Homo sapiens: one gene and its partners. The protein of the gene in region 1 purifies or fractionates together with the protein of each later gene. This does not show direct contact. Each region holds a gene or a part of one and is shown in the gene's direction. Other genes may lie near its edges.

Evidence for each region.
Region 2: the proteins of SLC22A15 (region 1) and CCNB2 purify together in Homo sapiens (affinity purification with mass spectrometry; one large-scale study listed by BioGRID and IntAct). This does not show direct contact.
Region 3: the proteins of SLC22A15 (region 1) and PI4K2A purify together in Homo sapiens (affinity purification with mass spectrometry; one large-scale study listed by BioGRID and IntAct). This does not show direct contact.
Region 4: the proteins of SLC22A15 (region 1) and ANKRD13C purify together in Homo sapiens (affinity purification with mass spectrometry; one large-scale study listed by BioGRID and IntAct). This does not show direct contact.
Region 5: the proteins of SLC22A15 (region 1) and AHCTF1 purify together in Homo sapiens (affinity purification with mass spectrometry; one large-scale study listed by BioGRID and IntAct). This does not show direct contact.
Region 6: the proteins of SLC22A15 (region 1) and SLC25A30 purify together in Homo sapiens (affinity purification with mass spectrometry; one large-scale study listed by BioGRID and IntAct). This does not show direct contact.
Region 7: the proteins of SLC22A15 (region 1) and LMBRD2 purify together in Homo sapiens (affinity purification with mass spectrometry; one large-scale study listed by BioGRID and IntAct). This does not show direct contact.

Annotation. Positions count from the first base shown.
Region 1 is NC_000001.11:116,063,513-116,067,012, forward strand, and holds part of SLC22A15 (solute carrier family 22 member 15), read left to right. Parts: intron 1-923; coding exon 924-996; coding exon of another isoform or gene 997-1,000; intron 1,001-3,007; coding exon 3,008-3,196; intron 3,197-3,500. UniProt on the Homo sapiens protein: Organic zwitterion/cation transporter with apparent specificity for amino acids and their derivatives. Has low affinity for its substrates and may regulate their flux across the plasma membrane at high substrate concentrations.
Region 2 is NC_000015.10:59,111,646-59,115,145, forward strand, and holds part of CCNB2 (G2/mitotic-specific cyclin-B2), read left to right. Parts: intron 1-2,798; coding exon 2,799-2,969; intron 2,970-3,072; coding exon 3,073-3,231; intron 3,232-3,500. UniProt on the Homo sapiens protein: Essential for the control of the cell cycle at the G2/M (mitosis) transition.
Region 3 is NC_000010.11:97,639,377-97,643,470, forward strand, and holds the start of PI4K2A (phosphatidylinositol 4-kinase type 2-alpha), read left to right. Parts: upstream 1-1,294; 5' UTR 1,295-1,366; coding exon 1,367-1,801; intron 1,802-4,094. UniProt on the Homo sapiens protein: Membrane-bound phosphatidylinositol-4 kinase (PI4-kinase) that catalyzes the phosphorylation of phosphatidylinositol (PI) to phosphatidylinositol 4-phosphate (PI4P), a lipid that plays important roles in endocytosis, Golgi function, protein sorting and membrane trafficking and is required for prolonged survival of neurons.
Region 4 is NC_000001.11:70,278,223-70,281,722, reverse strand, and holds part of ANKRD13C (ankyrin repeat domain-containing protein 13C), read left to right. Parts: intron 1-3,500. UniProt on the Homo sapiens protein: Acts as a molecular chaperone for G protein-coupled receptors, regulating their biogenesis and exit from the ER.
Region 5 is NC_000001.11:246,929,149-246,933,277, reverse strand, and holds the start of AHCTF1 (protein ELYS), read left to right. Parts: upstream 1-1,329; 5' UTR 1,330-1,700; intron 1,701-1,919; exon of another isoform or gene 1,920-1,950; coding exon of another isoform or gene 1,951-1,970; exon of another isoform or gene 1,971-2,051; coding exon of another isoform or gene 2,052-2,149; intron 2,150-4,129. UniProt on the Homo sapiens protein: Required for the assembly of a functional nuclear pore complex (NPC) on the surface of chromosomes as nuclei form at the end of mitosis. May initiate NPC assembly by binding to chromatin and recruiting the Nup107-160 subcomplex of the NPC.
Region 6 is NC_000013.11:45,404,874-45,408,373, reverse strand, and holds part of SLC25A30 (kidney mitochondrial carrier protein 1), read left to right. Parts: intron 1-2,396; coding exon 2,397-2,491; intron 2,492-3,500. UniProt on the Homo sapiens protein: Antiporter that transports inorganic anions (sulfate, sulfite, thiosulfate and phosphate) and, to a lesser extent, a variety of dicarboxylates (e.g. malonate, malate and citramalate) and, even more so, aspartate.
Region 7 is NC_000005.10:36,134,888-36,138,387, reverse strand, and holds part of LMBRD2 (G-protein coupled receptor-associated protein LMBRD2), read left to right. Parts: intron 1-946; coding exon 947-1,114; intron 1,115-1,868; coding exon 1,869-2,079; intron 2,080-2,164; exon of another isoform or gene 2,165-2,252; coding exon of another isoform or gene 2,253-2,336; intron 2,337-3,500. UniProt on the Homo sapiens protein: Recruited to ligand-activated beta-2 adrenergic receptor/ADRB2, it negatively regulates the adrenergic receptor signaling pathway. May also regulate other G-protein coupled receptors including type-1 angiotensin II receptor/AGTR1.

The DNA of each region.
Region 1 (3,500 bases):
GCCAGCTCTTTCTCAGTCTTTTAGAGGATCATTCCAAACAATCCTTCTCCTTCCCTTATCCATGCAAGAAGCTTCATGGTTCTTTCTGCCTGTTAATTTAAAATTATTTTTCCTAGTAAGAGAGCAGAGTGTCTGCAATTGGCTAGTAATTTCCTAGCTGGTCCTATAACCTACTTTACCTGGCTACTGGCTATAAAACTAGGATGATGATTTTGTCCACTCTGGGACAATTTTGAGAGCAAATGTGGGTATGAACTTTTCAGCTGGGATTACAGAGTGCTGTATCCCTCTACCCAAAACCATTAATTATCATTCTCTCTCCCTCCCTCCCTCTCTCCTTCCTATCTTTTTTATGCCTGCACTCCCCATAAAGGTGTTCTTGGTTTCCTGACAGTACACGCTTAGTCAATTTCTATTTATATGATTGACCTGTTAATTGTTAATTAGTTAGTTGAGTTTAAATAAATGAGCAGCCTTTTCAGATCATAAAACCCTGGCAGTCTGTAGGAGATCTAAGGCATGAAAATCCATGAGAACTTTTAACTTAAAAATATTCAAATGCTCATTTCTATATCATCCTTTGTGGATCCACTGTCCAATATGGTAGTTACTGGCTTCATGTAGCTATTTAAGTGTAAATTAATTAAAATTAAATAAATTAAACATTCAGTTCTTCATCCTTCCTGGCTGCATTTCAAGCACTCAGTAGTGCTTGTGTCTAGTGGCTTCCACATTGGACTGGGTAATTATAGAACATTCCTAGCATCTCAGGAACATCTAGTAGGCAGCTCTAGAACCCACTGTTCTCTAGGATCCTGTGCTTCCACTTCAGGACATGTTATTCAAGGCCCGCTGCTGCCCCCCAAGGGTCTCTTAATTCCTCCGCTAGAACTTACTGATGTATTTTTACTTATGCTTTTCAGGAATGTTGGGCTTGGAACTTGTTCCATGTTCTCCCGAGTTGGTGGGATTATTGCTCCCTTCATCCCCTCACTGGTTGGTTTGTACCTTCTAGTTTTGTTTTTCTTGATTCTCTGCTTTGGAAATGCTTATGCTTTTTAGTAGAAAGAGGTGATGAACAGATGTCATTTAAGATCAGCTGACACAAATGTGAACCTTGGCCCTTTTAGATAGTATTCCGTCAGGGCAGATGGACTCTTATCGAGGATTCATTTGCCTCCAGTGGGTCTGATTTTTTGTTCATCTGGATTTGTTGGAGGGTCTGCTAATGCCAGTGTGCCCCATTCCTGTCCCCATGAAAAAGTTAGTCAACTAATAAGTATGTATGACACTTCTGCTGTGTGCTGGGCTCTATGCCAAGCACTTTCTACATATCATCACATGCAGTCCTCATAGTAACCATAAGAGGAAGGCATTGTTGTTACCCCTGTATTAAATATGAGACATGCTACAGAGAGGTTAAATACCTTCCCCCAAGAACACACCTCCTGGAAAATAACATTAGAGGAGAAATATGTCTCTCACTGTGTCTGTTAATATTTTTTTTTTGAAACTTTCTAACTTGTATAGTCAAAGAAAGGGAACCAGATTAAATGACAGCCCTAAAATCCTTCATCTTAAAATGCTCAGATTCTGTGAAAGAACCCAGGGGACCCCTACGCAAGTCTCTCCTTGGTTTGATTTGTGACTTTCCACAGCCAAGACTTTTTGAAAGCAACTAGATTTGATGTGGGACTTGTGGACCTGTTCTGTAGACAACTGTTCATTACTTAGGCAGGTCTCTGAAATGCCATTATAACCTTTTCATTTTCTGAGGTGCAGTACATTTCCCTTCTCAGAGTATCTCTCTCCATGTCTCATGATTAATTTTAGTTCACAAGACCCTTCTCCTAAAGGAGTCATGTAGGTCTGTGTTTTATTCTGCAAAATATAGGTACTGTTAGAGATATCTGACTTTGGATAGCTATCCTACAACATTATAATACCCAGCACTGTGTCTCTGTTGCTTCCTACAAGGTTAGAAGAAGGGAAAGTGTGTGTTCCCCTTGTTTCAACAACAGGCCCACAGTGCTGGACATATGTTTGAGTGTAGATGGCTAGAGATGAGAGATTCTCCTCCTCCCTCTTCCTCCTCATCCCTGTCTTCTGCTCGGTTCTCTCCATCTCTCCCTTCTCCTCCCCCTTCTCCCTTTTCCACCTCCTTCTCCATCATCTCTTCACTTTGAAAAATCAGGAAAAAATTGTCTGAGGGGAAATCCTAATTAGTAGTGGACCTACCCACGAAATTTGGAAGCCTAAACCAGAAGATCATAAAGCTTAGCAGGAATTCTAAAATGTTGATCAGCTCAGAAAAGCCCCAGAGAAACACCCTGGAAGCAACTGTTTTTCATGTTTTCTTTGAATCTCTTTGTGATGAAATGTTTCCGTTTTCCTGAGAATATGTTTTGGATCTCTGAAACAATTGCTTGTATCACCAGCCCTTAACCATGTTCAGTTTAGAAGTTTATAAGCCATATGTATGTCGTAGGGTTGGTTTTTTAAAAGAGTTTTTACACCTTTAATCCCTGGAACTCTCAGTTACGGTCTTAAGGTATATAGGATGGTTTGGCCAATTCCAGGATTAAGAACTTTAAAGTTCATCATCAGCAAGTATTTTGGGATGCCTCTGTGCAAAGTGTGCTCACCTGGAATGGAAGCTGAACTACAAGATGTCCTGTCAGCTCTGGCCATATAGGCCTGCCTGCTCAGAGGCAGCCTGGCCTCTTCTCCTACAGTACCCACCCCGGACATGAAATTGCTGCTTCTAATGTACAGACTAGTGCTGTCCTTTTATTTACTCACTCCCATCTCTACATGCCTGAGGAATCATTCTCTGATTTCCCAGGATAATTCTTTATGTGGAAAGAAGTGGCTTATAGTGTTGTCTAGTGCGAGGTCATGAACTAGGTGGTAAACATGACAGTTTTTCAGTCATGAGACTGCTTGTATTACATGCTAAGGAAACTAATTCTCTGGTTTATTTTCATTCCACTCCCCGCCTCTGCAGAAATATGTGCAATGGTCTTTACCATTCATTGTCTTCGGAGCCACGGGTCTGACCTCCGGCCTCCTGAGTTTGTTATTGCCGGAGACCCTTAACAGTCCGCTGCTAGAAACATTCTCCGACCTTCAGGTGTATTCGTATCGCAGGCTGGGAGAAGAAGCATTATCTTTACAGGCTTTGGACCCCCAACAGGTGTGATATTTTTCTTAATTATTATACCGCTTGGATAGTGGCAGTTAATGAAAAAAAGAAGGTTTGCGTTAAATTAAATAGAACTGAGTAAAACTGCTGGAAAACAAAAGTGGGATCTAACAGCAGCTGATTTTCAGAGAAATAAGGATGATCGATGATTCATTAGCTTTCCTAGAATATTTTAGGGGCTATTTCTTGGGGGAATGAATGTCATATAAATACATTTGTCAGTTGAATAGCTAGATGGTAGTTTCCATTTCAGAAATGTCATAACATCATTTCACTGCCCTTTTCTTCTTTCCTG
Region 2 (3,500 bases), on another chromosome or scaffold:
TCTTCTCATACCTCACAGGCTATCCTGCTGACATCTCAAATCAATTTGCAGTTCCCAGAATTGCCTTGATTTTCTTTGGTTTGCTTTTGCCTGTTCATCTTCCTTAAGGTCTTACCGTCTCTGGTACCCTGGGTACCTCTACTCATTTGTTCTAGCTCCTTGAGGTTTCCAGGTTCCCAAATTCTATTCTATTCTTTTCTTTCTTTCTTTCTTTTTTTTTTTTTTTTTGACAGAGTCTCACTCTGTCTCTAGGCTGGAGTACAGTGGCATAATCATGGGTCACTGCAGTTTTGATCTCCTGGGCTCAGGTGATTCTCCCATTTCAGCCTCCAAGTAGTTGGGACAACAAGTGTGCGCCACCATGCCTGGCTAATTTTTGTATTTTTTGTAGAGGCGAGGTTTTGCCATGTTTCCCAAGCTGGCCTCAAACTCCTGAGCTGAAGCAATCCACCTGCCTCAGCCTTCCAAAATGCTGGGATTACAGGTGTGAGCCACCGCACTTGGCCTGGGTTCTCAAATTCTTGTATAAATGGCATGCATGCCTGCATAGTTCTTGCTCACCTGGTTCTTCCTCAGTTTAAGACCTTTGATTTAAGAGGGGAGGACATGTTTTAAACTGTTTTTTTGTTTTGTTATTGTTGTTATTGATGCATCCTCGAAGACTGGAAATTATAATCATTGAGCTTTACTGTAAATTAAAATTGTCTTTTTTTTTTTGAGACAGAGTCTCGCTCTGTCACCCAGGCTGGAGTGCAGTGGTGTGATCTCCGCTCACTGCAACCTCTGCCTCCCAGGTTCAAACGATTCTCCTGCCTCAGCCTCCTGAGTAGCTGGGATTACAGGTGTGTGACACCACAGGCCCAGCTAATTTTTGTATTTTTAGTAGAGATGGGGTTTCACCATGTTGGTTAGGCTGATTTCAAACTTCTGACCTCGTGATCCACCCACCTTGGCCTCCCAAAGTGCTGGGATTATAGGCGTGAGCCACCAGGCCTGGCCGCCTCCTCTTTTTAAAAAATATTTTATTACCTTAATATATATTTGTATAGCTTAGCATCTTGTTAGGTTTTACTTGGAGAAGTACTTTTTTTTTGAAAGCATTGATTTGGCTGGGTGCAGTGGCTCAAGCCTGTAATCCCAACACTTTGGGAGGCCGAGGTGGGCGGATCACAAGGTCAGGAGATCGAGACCATCCTGGCTAACACGGTGAAACCCCGTCTCTACTAAAAATACAAAAAATTAGGCGAGTGTGGTGGAAGGCGCCTGTAGTCCCAGCTACTCCAGAAGCTGAGGCAGGAGAATGGCGTGAACCCGGGAGGCGGAGCTTGCAGTGAGCCAAGGTCGTGCCACTGCACTCCAGCCTGGGCGACAGAGCGAGACTCCATCTCAAAAAAAAAAACATTTAAAAAAGCAAAGATTTTTTTATCTTTCATTAATAAATACTTGTTTTAACTGCTTTATAAATTTTTAATTTGCATAATTTTTATAAATAATTACCCAGTCAGCATAGGAAAGTGAAATACTGAGTTGTGAACTTGCTCAGTCTTCGCTCCCTTCTCCTATTTTATTTATAGACTGCAATATGCTTTTCTCCTTTTTAGTTGCCAGTTTTTCAATTTAGAATAAATTAGTTAAAGAGAAGAAAACATTATACTGCAGAAGAGGCTGCTACTAAAGTAGAATGATCAGCTCCAGTAATCTTTGAACCCAGGTGGTCAAGTTTCTTCCATTTATTGAGCACCTACTACGTATCAGGGATTATATAGATGTTTGAGGTGCCTTAGTGGGCAAAACCAATTAAATAAACGTAAGCTTTTAGAGCTTACATTCTGGCAGAGGTAGACAGAAAATAATACACATACTATATAAACTATAGAATTTTAGAAGTATAGGTATTATGAGAAAAAACAGAATAATACACATATAAACTATAGAATTTAGAAGTATAGGCTTTATGAGAAAAAACAGAATAATACACATATTAACTATAGAATTTTAGAAGTATAGGTTTTATGAGATGAGACATATGGGTAGGGTAGGAGGACAGGGATTGGAGGCAGGTGATAATTTTGTTTTTTGTTTATTTGGTTGGTTTTGAGGCGGAGTCTTGTTCCGTCCAGCCCAGGCTGGAGTGCAGTGGCGTGATCTTGGCTCATTGCAACCTCTGCCTCAGCCTCCTGAGTAGCTGGGACTACAGGGGCGCACCATCACGCCCAGCTAGTTTTTGTATTTTTAAAGTAGAGATGGGGTTTTGCCATATTGGCCAGGCTGGTCTTGAACTCCGGGGCTCAAGCCATCCACCTGCCTTGGCCTCCCAAAGTGCTAGAATTACAGGCGTGAGCCACCGTGCATGGCCTGATAATTTTAAATAGGAGTTAGGATAGACCCCATTGAGAATGTAACATTTAAGTAAAACTTGAAGTAAGGGAATTACCCATATGGACATAGGGGCAAGAGCATTCTGGGTAAGAAGAACCTGGCTTGAGTGAAGCAGTCAAGGGAGAGAAGCAGGAGATGGGTCAGCGAGGGAACTGGGGAGGGCCAGATTATATAAGGTCTGTAGGCCATTGGGAGGACTTAAGTTTTCAGTTTGAGTGAAATTAGAGAGTTTTAAACAGAGAAGTGTCTCTTGAAGAACTTCACATACTATATCTTGAATTATTCACCTCTTGGTATGAAATTTGTTGTGTCTTTAACATATTTCAGATGTGCGTATGATATTGATATTTAAGCCAGTTGGCTCTGCATGTATTTATGGTTAAGGCTGCTCCTACATGTGCCTAAATTTGTTGGTGTAGGGTCCTTCTCCCACACCTGAGGATGTCTCCATGAAGGAAGAGAATCTCTGCCAAGCTTTTTCTGATGCCTTGCTCTGCAAAATCGAGGACATTGATAACGAAGATTGGGAGAACCCTCAGCTCTGCAGTGACTACGTTAAGGATATCTATCAGTATCTCAGGCAGCTGGAGGTAGGTGGGCCTTTGTGTTTTGGTTGTATAAGCAATGTGGAATTTACCACACAGCTGGGAAGCAAACAAGGTCAGCTTTTTAAACTTTTGATTCTACCCACAGGTTTTGCAGTCCATAAACCCACATTTCTTAGATGGAAGAGATATAAATGGACGCATGCGTGCCATCCTAGTGGATTGGCTGGTACAAGTCCACTCCAAGTTTAGGCTTCTGCAGGAGACTCTGTACATGTGCGTTGGCATTATGGATCGATTTTTACAGGTAGGTGTGGCTTCAGGGACTTCACGCCAGTGGCTCATTGAACATTGCATTTATGCTTGGGGGATAGAAAACTAAAGTGGGTACTTCTGAAAAAAAGACCAAAAATCAAATTGTGAGAAGCCAAAGAACTTTGGGGACTAAAAAGGGAAGTAATCCAAGTGTGTCAAGCCTTTGATGATGCGGACCAATAATGGGCATTTCTGTAAGGCCAGCCAGCTAAAAAGTACTTGGGGGAAATATTGCATTGCCACAATCCTTCATCAGAGGAA
Region 3 (4,094 bases), on another chromosome or scaffold:
TCAAGCGATTCTCCTGCCTCAGCTTCCCGAGTAGCTGAGATTATAGGCATGTGCCACCATGCCCGGCTAATTTTGTATTTTTAGTAGAGACAGGGTTTCTTCATGTTGGTCAGGCTGGTCTTGAACTCCCGACCTCAGGTGATCCGCCTGCCTCAGCCTCCCAAAGTGCTGGGATTACAGGCGTGAGCCACTGTGCCTGGCGGGTTTTTTTCTTTTAAAAATTTTTTATTTTTTGGCTGCACTGTGGGTGGTTCACACCTGTAATCCCCCAGCACTCTGGGAGACTGAGGGAGGAGGATCGCCTGAGGCCAGGAGTTCAAGACCAGCCCAGGCAACATAGAGATAACCTAACTCTAAAAAAATAATAATAATATTTTAAAAAGAAATCTTCAGGGCTTCCTAGGAAAACCTGGAGGCAATTGTTAAGACATTTTATCCTGACTGGCTACTTCACCCATTACCTTCAAGTTCCTGCGAACTTGAAGTGTAACCTGACATTGTTACATCTACATTGGAAGTATGTTAGGTCAACTGAGATACGAATTTGGGATACAAAGTACAATGTATAGCCAATCTATAACTTGTTATTTTAATGTAAATTCTTGGTAAACAAGTTAGGAACTGCCTCTTTTCCTTTAAAAACCTACTTCCAGGCCAAGCGCAGTGGCTCACACCTGTAATCCCAGCACTTTGGGAGGTCGAGGTGGGCAGATCACTTGACCTCTGTCGTTTTTTTTTTGGAGACTGATCACTCTGTCTCAAAAAAAAAAAAAAAACAAACCCAAAAAACAAACCCCCCGCCCCAAAAAAAACGTTTCATCGAGGTAGAGCAGCAGCTTTGTTTCTTTGCTTCACTGCTGTCTCCCTAGCACTTAGAACATAGTACGTGCTCAATAAATGAATGAGTGCCTGACTGAATGAATGAGGATACATAGATGAGATTCCTCCAATCTCACAGCCGGTTCAGAGTAGGCACTCAATGAGTGACTGACAGGATAGTTGCTGTTTTGAAAGCGCCCAAGTCCAGTAAGCCAATTGGAAGCTAAGCGTGGCGCTGGTATAGTAGGGGCAGGGGGCGTGCCTGACCCAAGGTTGGGTCCTGGAGCATGCGCAGTCTTCACAGAAGGTGACGGGGAGAAAAATGCGGAGGCAGCGATTGCGTAGGAGCAGGTTCTGATTGGCTACTGTTCGCGCGCGAGGGGCCGTGCCTATTCGTAGCCAAGTAAACAGGGCAGGTTAGAGGCGGGGCCAAGGAGGCGTCGCGACCTGGTTGGCCGGCCGGGGCCTGGGGGATGTCACGGATTGGTCGCGGCCGCGAGCGCAGTGGTGTGGAGCGCGCCGGGTCCCGGAGCCGGCTGTCTGAGGGATGGACGAGACGAGCCCACTAGTGTCCCCCGAGCGGGCCCAACCCCCGGACTACACCTTCCCGTCGGGCTCGGGCGCTCACTTTCCGCAGGTGCCCGGGGGCGCGGTCCGAGTGGCGGCGGCGGCCGGCTCGGGCCCCTCTCCGCCGGGCTCGCCGGGCCACGACCGCGAGCGGCAGCCACTGTTGGATCGGGCCCGGGGCGCGGCGGCCCAGGGCCAGACCCAAACCGTGGCGGCGCAGGCCCAGGCTCTGGCCGCTCAGGCCGCGGCGGCAGCCCACGCCGCTCAGGCCCACCGCGAGCGGAACGAGTTCCCGGAGGATCCTGAGTTCGAGGCGGTGGTGCGGCAGGCCGAGCTGGCCATCGAGCGCTGCATCTTTCCCGAGCGCATCTACCAGGGCTCCAGCGGAAGCTACTTCGTCAAGGACCCTCAGGGGGTGAGTGCGGGGGTGGGGACCGCCGCCGCGGGCTGAGGGCCGGCGGCGCTCCTGGGGAGTTGGGGGCTTCGCACAGCCAGAGGGAAAAGGGAGAAACTTCACAGTACCAGCCCCTGGCAGGATTTAGGGATGCCACTGAGGACTGGAGCTGGGGACGCTCTGCGGAATGGAGAAATAAATCAGAACCTACTTGGTGGGGGAGGAGTGAGCGGAAAATGAAAAGAGGAAATTGACCAGATACGGGCCGGGGGCTCAGCGGTGTGGTGGGGCAATCCGCCGCTGGACAGAGACTGCTTTCTAGTAGGGTACTTAGCTTCACACTACTGGGACAGCTATTCGGCCGCCGACTTGCAGATTTGGGGCTTTAGGCCTGTTCTCTCTTTTTGGACCGACCGAACCAGTGTGTCGCTGTTCACGGAGGAGGATGGGTGACCTATCAGGGGATCTGAGAATTCAGTTCCAGCCTTCTATGTTGTGGGGGATGTCCCCTGCCACCGTCCCAGCTCTTATTAACAGACGTTGAAGAAAGAATGGGCGGACTCACCAGTTTCATCTGCCCTGGGTATTGCTCACTTCTGGGAAAGGGTTCAAATACTTTTTGACGACTCCAAAGTTTAGATAGAACTTGGAGTTTTAGAAACATGGGGCCATCAGCTACTTTTTCTTTCATTTCTCTCCCAGGGCTATCAACAGCCTGCTTTTCAACTAAGGCAGAGCGTTTGCCGACCTTTATTTTGTCCCCTGCCTGTATATAAAGGGGGATGGTTATAGGATGGGGCATGGAGTGACCAGGGTATCTGAGAAGTGACCTTTATCCTTTTGAGAACTGCAGAATTTAAGAAATACCAAGTCTTCCCTGTTTTCAGGGAAGTTTCAGGGAAATTTTCAGGTGTGCTGCAATGGGTCATTGGAAAGATGTATTGTTATTTAAATTATGGGTGTCAAAGTTTCCTCAGATTTTCCCTGACATCTCTCCTGTGTGAACTCTTTAGATGGCCAGGGTGCTGTTTTAATAGGAGTCCTGAGTGGCCAGGACGGGCTGTTACTTGTAGCTCTTGGTTCGGCTCATTGAATGATCTAGTTATTCACTCAGAGTTTGAGTCGTCCCTGAATTAATCAAGAATTAGAGAACAATTCTGCCATGAACTCAGTTTCTCAGTTTACATAAACTGAGTTGGGGAAAGCTTTGCGAGTAATAAGTCTTTCGAAGTTTCTTTTTCTTTTTTTTTTTCTTTTTTTTTTGAGACAGAGTCTTGCTCTGTCGCCAGGCTGGAGTGCAGTGGCGCGATCTCAGCTCACTGCAGCCTCCGCCTCCCAGGTTCAAGCAATTATCCTGCCTCAGCCTCCTGAGTGGCTGGGACTACAGGCGTGCACCACCACACCCAGCTAATTTTTGTATTTTTAGTAGAGACCATGTTGGCCAGGATGGTCTCGATCTCTTGACCTTGTGATCTGCCCACCTCGGCCTCCCAAAGCGCTGGGATTACAGGCGTGCCACCGCGCCCGGCCTCCAAGTTTCTTAAATAAAAGAGCTTGCAAGCTCAAGTGGGAACCATCATTTCTAGAAGCAAAGAAATGTGAGTGCCCTGAGGTTTAAATGTCAGCCAGAGGCTTGCTTGCTTTCTCTTTCTTCCTTCCTTCCTTCCTTCCTTCCTTCCTTCCTTCCTTCCTTCCTTTCTTTCTTTCTTTTTCTTTCTTTCTTTCTTTCTTCCTTCCTTCCTTCCTTCCTTCCTTCCTTCCTTCCTTCCTTTCTTTCCTTTCTTTCTTTCTCTTTCTTTCTTTTTCTTTCTTTCTTTCATTCATTCTCTCTTTCTCGTCTTTCTTTCTTTCAGAGAAGGTCTCACTCTGACACCCAGGCTGGAGTGCAGTGGTGCAGTCTCACTGCTCACTGCAGCCTTGACATCCAGGGCTCAAGGTCCTCCCACTCAGCTTCCGAGTAGCTGGGACTACAGGCACGCACCACCACACCCGGCTAAAAATTATTTTTCATGGAGACAAGAGTCTCGCCATGTTGCCCTGGTTGGTCTCAGACTCCTGGCTTCAAGCAGTCATCCTCTTGCCTCAGCCTCCCAAAGTGCTGGGATTACAGGTGTGACCCACCATGCCTGTCCTTTTTTTGTGGGCAGAGGGTATTTTTAGTTTGTTGGCAAATGTAAGAAGGGGCTAAGATTATCTTTGATAGGTACAGGAGAAGGAGGAATATTTTTGTTTTTCTTTCATGACACTGTTAGAGCTGCATTGGAAGTGGGTTAGGTCAGCTGAGAAGTGAGCTGGTGCTTTGACAGATGGAAGT
Region 4 (3,500 bases), about 46 Mb from region 1:
TCCATTGGTTAGAATTTAACCCGGGCATGGTGACTCATGCCTGTAATCCCAGCACTTTGGGAGGCCAAGGTGGGAGGATTGCTTGAGCTCAGGAGTTCAAGACCAGCCTGGGCAACATAGTGAGACTCTGTCTCTACAAAAAAAAAGTAAAAACAAGCTGAACATGGTGGCATGCATCTGTAGTCCCAGCTCCTCAGGAGGCTGGGGTGGGAGGATCACTTGAGTCCAGGAGGTCATGGCTGCAGTTTGGTGTGATTGAGTTACTGCACTCCAGTGTAGGTGACAGAGCAAGACCCTGTCTCAAAAAAAAAAAAAAAAAAAAAAAAGAATTTAGTCACATGATAACACCTAGCTGCAAGGATTTCTAGAAAAGGAGTCTATTCTAGGAAGTCATGTGCTCATCCAAAAATTTGGAAGAGAGGTTCTTTCACAAAGACTAATGGGAGAACAGATACTGGGGAGACAACTAGCAATCTCTGACATCTCATCAGTGAGTACATAAACACTGGTAACTGTCAACCAGATATATACCTTTAACTCTATTCTTCCGTCATATCACCACATCTATAGTGCTTTTGCCTACCTCTACTTGGATAAACATAGATGTCTAAAATTTAGTGTGTCTAAATCAGATAATGCTTTCTTCCCTCCTTCCTCTTTTCTCTGTCTTAGGTAGTAACACCATTATCTCCTTATTTACCCCAGCTGGCAACCTGAAATTTCTTCTTAGACTTCTTAGCTTTCCTGTTATCTCTATATCTGATCAATCACAAAATCCTAAGGATCTCTTGAGTCTATTTAGTCTATTTTCTGTCCTTCCATTTTTAAACAACATGCCCTTATCATTTCTCATTTGGATTACTGAGATAGCTTCCTAAATACACTGCCACCAGAGTAATCACCCTGAAATAGATTGAATCATGTAATGGCTATGCTCAGTAACTAAAATGTATACAGTACTTGCTATGCGTGAGGCACTATTTTAAGCACTTTACATTTAACAGCCCATTTTTATCATCACAGTAAACCCTCTGAGGTTATATAGTTGACAGAACTGAGGCAAAAGAGGTTGAGTAATTTGTTTGAAGTCAGCTAGTCATTGTCGAAGCCAGAATTGGATCACTCTGGCTCCACAGTTGGTGTTTTAGCTACTATATTGTATTGCTCAAAATATTTGTCCATTGCTTCCTGAGTAAAATGTGATCTACTTCATATGTAAAACCCTTTCAGGCTACTTTTTCTCTTCTGTGTCTGGCCACTTTTCTCTTACTACTAATCTTCATGTATACTACTCATACAACTAGACACACTACACTTGCAATTTCCCAGTATGTCATGCTTTCTCTCACCATTCTGCTTTCCCCAGTTCCTTCAACCAGTTCTTTTGTTCTTTTTTAGACTCCTCAATTCAGGAGTCAACCAGTCCACGTCTTTTGGCTACCCTAGTCTGTCATAAACCTCTTCTGTGCATGTTTATATCATTCTGTAGCCCCTGTCACCCTCAATTATATCATAGCCCCTGTCACCCTCAATTATAAGTATTTACTTTTTGTGTCTCTTGATAAGCTTCTCAAGGAAAGAACATTGTCTTTCATCTTGCCTGATACTAAAAAACTCTGTTTCCTTTCTTTCCACATCCCTCGGCTGCTACTCAGAGATCATCAATGACTTCTAACCAACAAAATTTATGGCTTTTTCAGGCTTCTTTCTCTTCAAAGTCTCTGTAGTGTGATATTGAAACAGTCTTTTCTTTTGGCCTCCATTATACCATAAGGGAAACTAAACTTTACCTCTTCCAAACTTAGTTCTTAGTTGAGATGGACTCTCGTACCAAAAGACAGATTTATAAGGGAAAAGCAAACAAGTTTATTAATGCGTGCCGCACACCACACAAGAAACCCCAAGGAAAAGTAACTCAAGGGCTGATCACAGTGGCTTATGCCTGTAATCCCAGCACTTTGGGAGGCTGAGTTGGGCAGATCACTTGAGGCCAGGAGTTTGAGACCAGCCCAGCCAACATGGTGAAACCCCATCTCTATTAAAAATACAAAAATTAGCTGGGCTTGATGATGCACACCTGTAATCCCAACTCAGGAGGCTGAGGCAGAAATATTGCTTGAACCTGGGAGGCGGAGGTTGCAGTGAACCGAGATTGTGCCACTGCACTCCAGCCTGGGTAACAGAGCAAGACTATGTCTCAAAAAAAAAAAAAAAAAAAAAAAGTAGCTCAAAATAGTGGCTTAGAACTCTACTTATATAGCATCTTCAACAAAGAACAATAAATTTATAGAGAAATGACAGGACAAATGAAAGTGATTTTAGGTTTCCAAGGACAGGAAAGGAGTAAGGTTTGTTTGCAAATTCCTCTGGTGCTGTCACTGGGCTAGTAAGAGTATAGAGTTATCTCCAGTGAAGCAAAATTTATACTCTGTAGTTCGGCAGAAAACGGAGGGTAGAGAAAAAGCTTTTCCTCCATTTACTGCTTCCCTCTCTCTCTCTCTTTTTTAATTTCTTTTGAGACAGAGTCATGTTCTGTCCTGTAGGCCGGAGTGCAGTGGCATGATCTCGGCTCACTGCAGCCTCCATGTCCTGGGCTCAAGGAATCCTCCCACCTTGGCCCTTCAAGTAGCTGGGACCACAGATGTGTGCCACCATGCCTGGCTACTTTTTTTTTTTGTATTTTTTGTAGAGATGGGGTTTTGCCATGCTGCCCAGGCTAGTCTCAAACTCCTGAGCTCAAGGGATCAACCTGCCTTGGCCTCCCAAAGTGCCAGGATTATAGGCATGAGGCACCACACCTGACCTGCACTAAGTTTTTTATATACGTTATCTCCATTAATTTTTAACTATGAGTTAGTGGCCCAATTCCCATTTTGCAAGTGAGTTAAGTTGACATAATAGAAAGTAACTTGCCCAAATTCACACAACTACCAGGTATTGGAGCTGGGATTCTAACTCAATTTTGTGTCTTAGCAATCCTTGATTTTAACAACTCTAATATATGGCTCATTAACATCTTACACTAATTATATGTAAAACCACATTTCTTGAATGAGACCCTCTCAATGTTATTAACATCTTATTATTCATATTAGTCTTTCACTTATTGTCTTTTTGCTCCATAGTCCTGTTAGGTTTTCATTAGCAATTGAAAAAAAATTTTTTTTTAATTTATGAGGTTTTTGTTTTGTTTTGTTTTCTTGAGACATAGAGTCGCTCTGTTTCCCAGGCTGGAGTGCAGTGGTGTGATCTTGGGTCATGGAGTGCAGTGGTGTGATCTCAGGTCACTGCAATCTCTGCCTCCTGGGTTCAGGTGATTCTCCTGCCTCAGCTTCCTGAGTGGCTAGGATTACAGGTGCGAGCCACTACGCCTGGCTAATTTTTGTATTTTTAGTAGAGATGGGGTTTCACCATATAGGCCAGGCTGGTCTTGAACCCCTCACCTCAAGTGATCCACCTGCCTTGACCTCCCGAAGTGCTAGGATTACAGGCATGAGCCA
Region 5 (4,129 bases), about 130 Mb from region 1:
CCTGTAGTCCTAGCTACTCTGGAGGCTGAGACAGGAGAACCTCTTGAACCTGGGAGGCGGAGGTTGCAGTGAGCCGAGATTGTGCCACTGCACTCCAGCCTGGTGACAGAGCGAGACTCCGTCTCAAATAAATAAATAAATAAATAAATAAATAAAATAAAAAAATTAATGGGACGTAGTGGCGCATGGTGGTCCATGCCCATAGTCCCAGCTACTTGGAGGGCTGAGGTAGGAGGATCATTTGAGCCCACGAGTTCGAGGCTGCTGTGAGCCTTGATTACACCACTGCACTCCAGCCTGGGCGACAGAGCGAGACACTGTCTCAAAAATAAAAAAATTTAAAAAGCACATATGAAAGGTAACAGAAAAGTAGAAACTTTCCTGATAAAAGAGCATCTTCTTAAAATCCCTACTCTACCTCATGTTATAATCCTTTTACTTACTACTTAGTATTAAGGATACGTTCCCTATCTGTTTGAAACATGTTTGGCGCTGGGATTTGCTTCAAAGGAAGATACTAACAAGAAATAAGAAATTCCACAATGAAAACCCGCGGTGACCAAAAAGATAACAGTGATTTGGGGTAAAATTTTGACTAAAAAGATTAGGCTAGGCTGCGCGAGCATTTTTGGCCATGAAAGCACAGGAGGATGCTAGAAAAAACAGCACCGTGGAAAAAGCGTTTCCCCAGAAGTCTGGGAGCCCACCTTTGGCATGAAAAGCGGGAGCACAGGTTGTAGTGAGCCAAGATCGTGCCACAGCACTCCAGCCTGGGCAACAGAGCAAGACTCCGTCTCCAAAAAAAAGAAAAAGAAAAAAAGAAAAGTGGGAGCACAGAACAGAAAATACAGAATGCAAGCTGCCAATTATGGGAGAAAGATTATCACTCGGCCCCCAGCTGGCAGGGCCACACGATTACGTGACAAGAGAGTCCGCCTGCAATCGCAGCAGGCGGCTGGCAGAGCCCGGCGCGACCCCCAGCGAAGACTACCACTCCCAACTGCGCACGGGGCGCGCCGCCGGGGCCGCCAGGGCGGCTTCACGCGCAAGGCACTGTGGGACTCGTAGTCTTTCTCCCCACCAGCTCCTCGGAGGCGGAGAGACCCGATTTTTTTGTAAATGATCCGCCCTTCCAGGCCCTGCTTCTCTTTCCTCCCTTTCCCTCCCACCTCCTTCTTTCACCGAGAGTTTGAAAATTCCCGCGGAGCCGGCGCTAGAGCGCGGAACCATCGCGAGAACTCTGGTCCCTGCAGCCGCGATCTCCCGCCGGTTCTCCCCTCCCTCTCCGCCCTTTCCTCTGCTCCCTCCCTTCCGGGGCGTGTGGAACTCGGTTTTGTCGGCGCAGGGTAATGCGCAGAGCGGGGCCGGCGCTGTCCGAGGCGAGCAGGCAGCGTTGCAAGGGGAAGGACCCAGAAGCGCGGCGGGAGCAGCGACTGCGTTTTAGCCGCTGAGCGGTCTGCAGGCCTACAGCCCGCGAAGGCACTCTCGGGGGCGTGTGGCTCTGAGGTGGCCGGGGAGGTCGCAGGCGGCGGCCGGAGCGCAGAGGAGCGGCTTCAGCCGGGCGGAGGGGTGTGAGCCCGGCCCGTGGCGGCCACGTCTCCCGGGAGATGCTGTGACGGACCCGCACGGGAGGAGCTCGCGCCTGGCCTGGCGACCCGGTGGACTCGGCCCGCGGCGGCGCGCTCACCCGCCCCGTTCAGGTAGGGGGAAGGGAGGGAGGGGGTTGGGCCCGCGCGGCGGAGGGCGGGTCGCGCGGCCTGGACCCGCGGCGGCGGCGGCGGCGGCGGCGGCGGCGGCGGGGCTTCTGCCCCGCGAGCGCCGGGCCTAGGCCGGGCGTGCGCGGGGCCAACGGATGGGGCTCGAGGGGGCGAGCGGTGGCGGTGGCGGGTACGGCAGGCTCGCGGGCGCCGGGCTTCGTTACATAATCTCGGACCGGAGGAGCGGCGGCACATGGCGGCGGAGCGGCGCTGGTGGTTCGCGTCCTGCGCCGGCAGTCGGGTCCCTTTACGGACGGCCGGGGCCGCGACCCTTTCCCACTGTTCTCCCACGCGATGGACTCGTTGGCGGGCCTTTCCCCGAGGGAAGCGGCCGGCGTGCTGAGCCTGTCCTGTGTTGGCGTGTGTTCCACATGCGCTTGGGCCTGGCCACAGTGAGTAGTCCTGGCGGGGAAGAAGTTGGACTCGGGGCTCAGCCGTGAGGTTCCAGCTCACCCGATTGGTCAGATCAAGGAGATTTAAAATAAAAGCACATCTTGGGGTGCTTTGCCTTCCTTTTTCCTACCTGGGAAACAGGACGGTTTCTTTTGCCACTGGTTGACTGTTTTGGTTTGGGTGTTTTGTTTTGAGAGATGGGGAAATTTTGTTCTCAAAGCTTACGAGGTTCATACTATCTGTGTGCAAAGTTTTATGAGATGAGCGTTATTTTTATTTCCAAATCGTCAGTTGTAGAAATTTTTGGAAGAACTGGGTTCTTCATAGAACAAAACGTAAATCCTTTGGGGAAATCCTAAACGATATTTATTCTCAGAATATCCTAAAGAACCTGTAGATTTTAAGAACTGTCTTTGGCTGGGCGCAGTGGCTCCTGTCTGTAATCCCAGCACTTTGAGAGGCTGAGGCGGGAGGATCGCTTGAACCCAGGAGTTTGAGACCAGCCTGAGCAACATGGCGAGACCCCCCCTTTTTTTTTTTTAAACTGTTTTTTTGTGAGCTTTCACTGATAGAGTCTCTTAGGAGAGAAGAAATTAGAGTGGTTTACTTATTTCGGAGGATTTGACCTGGGATGACAAGCCCAGTTAAGGTTAATACTTGAAGGGATGTTTTAAGTGTGCCAAGCGCTATGGGAAGTCTACGTTGTCTCTGTACTGTGATTTTTGGATCCTGATCCTTCAGTAACATACTACCAAGCTGTCACGAGTTTGCAAACAACAATAATTATCTTGAAAAAATTTTTAAAACATCATGTCAACCGGGAATTGGTGGCGCCTCTAGTCGCGCGCCTACTTGGGAGGCTGAGGCGGGGGGAACGTTTGAGCTTCAGCCTCAAACTGAGAGTTCGAGGGTTGCAGTGAGCTAGGATCGCGCCGCTGCACTCAGCCTGTGTGACAGAGCGAGAACCTGTTGCTAAAATAAAATAAAAAAGATCGTTATACATCAGTTTTGAGACTTTTGTTTTCTTTTTATGCTTCTCCTTTTTCATAGGTACAGATACATCTTTTTTTTTTTTTGAGACGGGGTCTTGCTCTGTTGCCCAGGCTGGAGTGCAGTGGCACAATCTTGGCTCACTGCAACCTCCGTCTCCCAGGTTCAAGCGATTCTCCTGCCTCAGCCTCCTGAGTAGCTGGGATTACAGGCGCACGCCACCACACCCGGCTAATTTTTGTATTTTTAGTAGAGACGGGGTTTCACCATATTGGCCAGGCTGGTCTTGAACTTCTGACCTCGTGATCCGCCCGCCTTGGCCTCCCAGAGTGCTGGGATTACAGGCGTGAGCCACCGCGCCCGGCTGGTACAGATATATTTTAAGAGGAAGCAAAACGTTGTGTCTTTCACGCCTACCTTTAATATTTTCAGGGACTTTTCTTTCTTCCCAGAATGAAGTGTAACTTCCCTCGGTTAGCTCAAAGGTCTCTACAATAAGTATATGCTACTGTCTATCCTCATATGTTAACAAATTTTATGCTTTTGCTATTCCAGAATCGTCATCAATCCTGGACTCATTCTGTGGAAGAGATGTTTCCACTCTGATGTTTCTTTGCTCATGTCCTTCATCCTGGAGTGCCATCTTTCCTTTTTTAAATACTCAAATTTCAGGTCCTCCTTCTAAATCCAATGTTTTCACTGTATTTTTATTTTTATTTTTATTTTTTTGAGACGGAGTCTCACTTTGTAGCCCAAGCTAGAGTGCAATGGCGTGATCTTGGCTCACTGCAACCTTCGCCTCCAGGGCTCAAGCGATTCTTGTGCCTCAGCCTCCCGAGTAGCTGGGACTACAGGAACGCGCCGCCACACTCGGCTAATTTTTTGTATTTTAGTAGAGACGGGGTTTCACCATGTTGCCCAGGGTGATCTCGAACTCCTGAGCTCAGACGATCTGCCCACCTCGGCCAACCAAAGTGCTGGGATTACAG
Region 6 (3,500 bases), on another chromosome or scaffold:
CAATCCCCAGAGGTTTTTGTTTTTTTAATTGAGCCAATATTTTAAAAATGAGAAATTGCACATAAAAATCTGGGACTCCATCTTCTTGAGAGAAATCAACATTAGGCCCACATTCATTCAGTTATGACAGTAGTAGCTGGGGTGAAGGATACTGTCTCTGGTTTACAAAACCTCTGTCACTCACATAGTATATGTGTGTGCAGTTCGACCCAGCCTGGATCATTCACTCATGGCATCTGCTTTCTTGGTACCTGTCAGCATTTGAGTTTGCTATATCTATGGCAGACAGAAGCCACTGAAAGTGTTTAAGTAGGAGGATGGACCTGATCAGCTTTACATTGTAAACATCACCTGCCTGCCATGGAGAGAAAGAATTAAGAGACAGGGAGCACTAGAAGCAGGGCTGTCATGTAGGAAGACTAGATGAGGATCTGAATTGGTTTTGGGGATGAGGAAAAAGAAGACAGGCTAGAAAACTATTTAGGGTGTAGGACTGATAGCACTACGTGACCTAATATGAGGTTTCCATACATGAAGCGGGTAGAAGGGAAGGAGGAGCCAAGACTAATGTCTCAATTGGTGGTTTTTGCCAGTGTGTAGCTGGAGCTTCCATGTCCTGGTTTAGGAAACACAAGAGGAGAGATGACTGTTTGGAGAAGGAAGAGAAGTAGTTCAGTGTGGGACCCTATCTGAAGGTATACACAGGACATCTAAATGGAGAATCTTGGAAGATTGGAAATGTGTCTTTGGATCCATGTTGGAAGCATGGATTTGGAGTCATCAGTCTTTTATTTTATTTTTCATTTATTTATTTTGAGACAGGGTCTTGCTTTGTCACCCAGGCTGGAGTGCAGTGGCACAAAATGGCTTACAGCAGCCTCTACCTCCCAGGCTCAAGTGATCCTCTCATTGCAGCCCCCTACATAGCTGGAACTATAGGCACAACAAGCCACTGCACCTAGCTGCACACACACAAACACACACACACAATTTTTTTTTTTAGATGGCGTTTCACTCGGTTGCCCAGGCTCACTGCAACCTCTGCCTCCCAGGTTCAAGCAATTCTCCTGCCTCAGCCTCCCGAGTAGCTGGGATTACAGGCACCAGCTATGACAACCGGCCAGTTTTTTGTATTTTTAGTAGAGACGGGGTTTTACCATGTTGTCTAGGCTGGTCTTAAACTCCTGACCTCAAGTGATCCACCCGTCTCGGCCTCCCAAAGTGCTGGGATTACAGGTGTGAGCCACCGTGTCTGGCGCTACTTTTATATTTTTTATAGAGATGGGGTTTTGCCATGTTGTCCAGGCTGGTCTCAAACTCCTGAGGTGCAGTGATCTGCCTGCCCTGGCTTCCCAAAGTGCTGGGATTACAGGCATGAGCCACCGTGCCTGGCCAGCCTTTAGATGGCAGTTGAAGCCTTGGGAGTAGGTGAGCTCACACAGGGAACATGTACAGTAAGGAGAGAAGAAGCATAGGATAGATTTCTGGGGAACCCCAGCAGACACAGGTAGGATGCTGTAGAGAAAAGAAAAGAAGTCAGAGGGGGTGATGCTACAGCAGAACAGGGAGGAGACAGCTACAAGTAGGACAAAGGGTAAACAGTGGCACACACTGCAAAGAGCTTATACAAGATCCTACTTGAAAAGCCTCATTTAACTTAGCAACAAAGATGTCAGTTGGTCACCTTGAAGAGGGGAGTTTTGAGGGTGAGGGCAGCAGAAACCCTGATTGCAATTCAAGAAGGAAGTGGGGAAATGCAGAAAGACACCCGGGGAGTGTCCATGCCACAACGTGGTTGTGGTTTGGAGAGGATAATAGGACAGGCATATCGGATGGAGGAAAGTAGGCTTGTTTTTCCTGATTCTGTCTTGAACTTCTTCACTTACATTTTCATTGAGAATAAATATGAGGGGCTAGGCTTTCACTTAGTGAGCTAATAATTTGCACATCTGGACCCACCTGTGTTTTTGTTGGATTTTGAATTTTACGAAATCGTTTTAGAGGCCGGGTGCAGTGGCTCATGCCTGTAATCCCAGCACTTTGGGAGGCCGAGGCCTGAGGTCAGGAGTTCAAGACCAGCCTGACCAACATGGCGAAACCCCGTCTCTACTAAAAATACAAAAATTAGCCAGGTGTGGTGGCGGGTGCCCGTATTCCCAGCTACTCGGGAGGCTGAGGCAGAAGAATCGCTTGAACCCGGGAGGCAGAGGTTGCAGTGAGCTGAGATCAAGCCATTGCACTCCAGCCTGGGTGACAGAGCGAAACTCCGTCTCAAAAAAAAAAAATTGTTTTAGAGAATGTAGTTTGATTATGGATGGCACTCTGCATGTGGGTTGCCTAGCCGATGTTAAGTGATTTTTAGATTGCTTTTGTCCCTTTGTACATTGGTTTAACAGGATTGCCCCCGCGATGTTACGCCAGGCATCCTATGGCACCATCAAGATAGGCACTTACCAGAGCTTGAAGCGACTATTCATTGAACGCCCAGAAGGTGAGTGGGGAATCTGTTTTCCACTGTGGACAGGAGGTTGGTTGTCTGTCTTTTTATTCAAGTGGTTTTGGAGCAGGTTTTCTTCAGCTTATTTGTGACTTTCCTACTGCTACAAGAACTCTGGGTGTAAAGTCTTAGTTAATTGTGCTGAAAGCAAGTTGGTTATCAACTCAATTGAGGGGAGAAATAATGAAAAGGAACCATCTCTGCAAACATTTTAATTAGTTGTCCCCATCTCCAAAATGCCTAGACCAGGGGATGTGTTGTTACTATTCCATCCAACTTAAAATTTGCTAAAATCATATGAATTGTCATCTATTTTTCAGGAAAACAGTGAATACATTTCTTAATATTAACAACACTGAATGCTAATACTCTGGCTTTTTGGTTCTGTGGCTTTGTTTTGATCCATAGAACTGTCCATCTTCATCTCTTTTCACAATGGGATGAGTACCAGACACTATTATGTAAGAGTGGTGAACAAGAGCTAAGATGCTTTGGAAATACTTCAGGATATTTCAAACTAAATACATACGATGTGCTTTAAAAACTTTCTGTGCCAAATAAGTCGTCATGTTATCTCATAGGAATTATTGTCCTAACAGATATAGCTCATCTTAATTATGATGGTCTGAATTTATACATAAATGTGAACTGGGGCTGGGTGCGGTGGCGCGTGCCTGTAATCCCAGTGCTTTGGGGAGGCTGAGGCGGGCAGATCACTTGAGCCCAGAAGCTCCAGACCAGCCTCGGCAACATGGTGAAACACCATCTCTACAAAAAATACAAAATATTAGCCAGGCGTGGAGGTGCACGCCTATAGTCCCAGCTACTGGGGAGGCTGAGATGGGAGGATCACCTGAGTCCAGGAGGTCGAGGCTGCAGTGAGCTGTGATTGTGCCACTGCACTCCAGCCTAGGTAACAGAGTGAGACCCTATCTCAAGAGAAAAAAAATAAAATCACATTTAGATATCAATAAATTTTGCAAAGCAAAATTCCTTCATTAGT
Region 7 (3,500 bases), on another chromosome or scaffold:
TTCTGTTCTTTTCCATTTCTGTAACATACCCCATTATATGTATATGCCATAGTTTATCCTACCCAGCCAAACTTCTTAAATAAATTCTCTATATTTGATATCTCCACTTGCTCATTGTTTACTTATTTCTTAACCATAGTACTCTGCTTTCTATTCTCCTCCACTTATACATACAGGTTCTTAATTTACTTCACCTCTTGGCGGCATTTGATTCTCTCTCTCCACTTTAACTTTCCTCTCCTAGTTCCTAATCCATATGCTCCTTGGTTTTCTTCCTTGCCCCACTATTGTTCTGTCTCAGTCTCTTTTGCTGGTCTACCCTCCTTCTGTTCTCTACCTCTCTTAAAAGTTGATATTTCTCAGAGTTCTGTCTCAGTTCTTTCCTTCACATTCTCCATACTCATTCTTACAGTTGAGTATCTACTGATGTTATTTCACTGCCATTGATACAGTGATGACTTCGGAAGCTATCCATATTTTTAGTCCGCTCTCCTGAACCCTGAAGCTGGGTTTGTGTGCAGCTCCTCTTGGATGTCTCCTAGGTACTACTTCAAAGTCAGTATGCTGTCAACTGACCTTCTCCCTTTTTGCTTCTTACCACCATCATCACCCTTCCCCCTCCCAACTAGTTCCAATTTTGTTCCCCTTTTATCCATTCTCCGTGTGAAGCCTTAGGAAACTAAAATTTGATCAAAAATGTTTTCTTTGAATGTAGTCCAGACTCTTCATAAAGGCTTTAAAGACCCATTTGCTTTCCCTAAAATTTTATATTACAAAAATACTCAGTCATCTATTATAGTTATTAAGTATTCATGATTACTTATAAACATTTATTAATGAGAAGACCTATTCATTAAAATTGAGATTCATATATTTCTGGCACTTTGAGATTATACAGACATATCAATTATTTGGGTTTTTAATCATATTTTTTCTATCCATCTAGGATTCTCTTACCTTTTATGCAGTCATATGCAAGATCAGGAGGGTTTTCCATCACTGGAAAGATCAAAACTGCACTAATTGAGAATGCAATCTACTATGGCACCTATTTGCTGATTTTTGGAGCATTTTTAATTTATGTAGCTGTAAACCCACATTTACATTTAGAATGGTAAGAAAAGTAGTCTTCTTAACATTGCTTTAATGTATGTTTGCATTTTTAAAAAATCATTTTTAATTTCATATGTGCAGGTAAAAAGACATTTCATTGAGAAATATATTGTTACATATTTTATGGATTTCCCCAAAAGAATATGTGAATAATCCATATTACTAAGAAAATATGGAATGACATCTTTAAATATAGATTTTAGGCAAAAGATTAATGATTAGTCTAATGGCTATATATTAAAAGTAATAACCCTTATGATTTTTGGATAGAATTTCAAAATTTTTATGATAAAATAACTGGTTTTATTTTTCATTGGAACTTGTGATTTTTTTTGTTTTGATTATAATTTGAAGGCATATTTGTTCTTAATGTTACCTTGGATTTAGATATTTCAATAAAATTGAAATCTGTTTTATACTTATGATTTGTAATATATGTGAAGGTCTACATCTGAAAATTTAGGAATAGATCAGCAGTGCTAGGTCTCACTATTGTATTCCTGAGATTTGCTAGGTCAGCAACACAGGTTAATTTGAAACATTTTCAAACTTCTTTTGTTTAATATAGAATAAGAAATCACCTAATGAAAAATGTTTCCTTTGGGAAAATATATACATATTATTGCCATGAATTATTCTAGATGCTAATTTTAACTGCAGTAGAAACAGTGTCTCCTGTGTTAAAGTCTATTTATGCAGTCGCATTTTATCTTTCCATTAAAATATACATATTATCTGTTGTTTCCCTTTCTTAGGAACCAGCTTCAGACAATTGGGATAGCTGCTGCAAATACATGGGGTCTGTTTCTTCTTGTGTTGTTGTTGGGGTATGGCTTGGTGGAAATTCCTCGATCATACTGGAATGGAGCAAAAAGGGGTTATCTACTTATGAAAACGTATTTTAAGGCAGCCAAACTGATGACAGAGAAAGCAGATGCAGAAGAGAATTTGGAAGATGCCATGGAGGTAAGCAAGTTTGAACCTTATAAGCAATAGTCACTAAGTCATATGTATCCCCTTTTAGTCATTTTTGGTTTGTTGTTGTTGTTAGTGCATTGATGGGCTTCAGACTGCAAAACTGGTGTTGTGCAATCCTTCAGGATGTCTCATCCAGGATGACTTTTTAGCAGTTCAGCCTCATGATGTGTCTTGTCCATCTTCTGTCTGACAGAGATTCATGGAAAATATATTCAATAGTGCAGGGCTACGCCTATTATTTTGAGGTAACTTTTAATAGTACCCTCTTTAATTTTCAAAAGTCTCCGAGATTAAATGATAAATTGTATGGTTACCCTAACATAGTAGAACTGAGAATAATGACCAGAGGACACTTATTTCCGAAAGGTTAACCTAAGGTAATCCCACCAATTCTGGAAACCTCTTTAAAGAACAATTTGCATGGGAGTTTGTATTGGTAAGTTTTGTTTCCTATCTGTAATCTTAATAAGACACTTCATTTTACTTGATGACTTAACCTAGTTTCACAAAGTTGTTGAAAGTATAACTTTCAATACTGTACATAAAAATATACAACAAATTATAAAATTTTTCTGTGTTAAATAAAAATTTTGTTATGGATTTAAAGAGATTATTGTAGTCACCTCACATTTTTGCTTCCCAGGGAAAATATGCTACTCAGCTGATGATACTCTCCAAATTAAAACTCCTGTTGAAGGCTTTTCATTCATGTTAGAATAAACTCCAAAATGTTTTAATGCAGCCTACAGAAAAATAATTTGGCCTATGTTTAGCTCTCCAGCTGTATCCCAAGCCTCTATTTTCTTGCACTGGTCATCTTTGGTTTCTCAAACTTGCTAATGTTGATGAAATAATAAACAATTCTATAGACTTAATATTTACCTAACACTCAACTTTCGTTCCTCAAACTTAGTAATGGTGATAATTATAGTAAACAATTATATAGACTTACTATTTGCCTAAGAGGGACTTTCTAAGCACTATACATATATTTAATTCTCATGACTTTATGATAGAGATTTTTGTAAATCCCCATTCTATAAATGAAGAATATGAGGCACGGAGAGATTAAGTAACTTTCTCATGTCTACATGGCTAGGAAGTGATAAGAGCCAGGCAGTCTTGCCTTAAACAGGGACTGACAAACTTTTCTGTAAAGGGCCAGATAGTAAATATTTTAGGCTTTGTGTGCAATGTCATTTCTATTGCAACTACTCTGTCATTGTAGGATGAAAGCAGCCATAGCCAGTAAATAAATGAATGAGAGTGGGTGTGTTCTAGTATGAGAACAAGTAGTGGACTGAATTGATCTGGCTTGATGACCATATGCTTAATTATTACACACATTGTCTTTCTTTTCTATCTTTGAGCATGCTATTCCCAAACTATTAGAATGCTCTTTTCAGCAC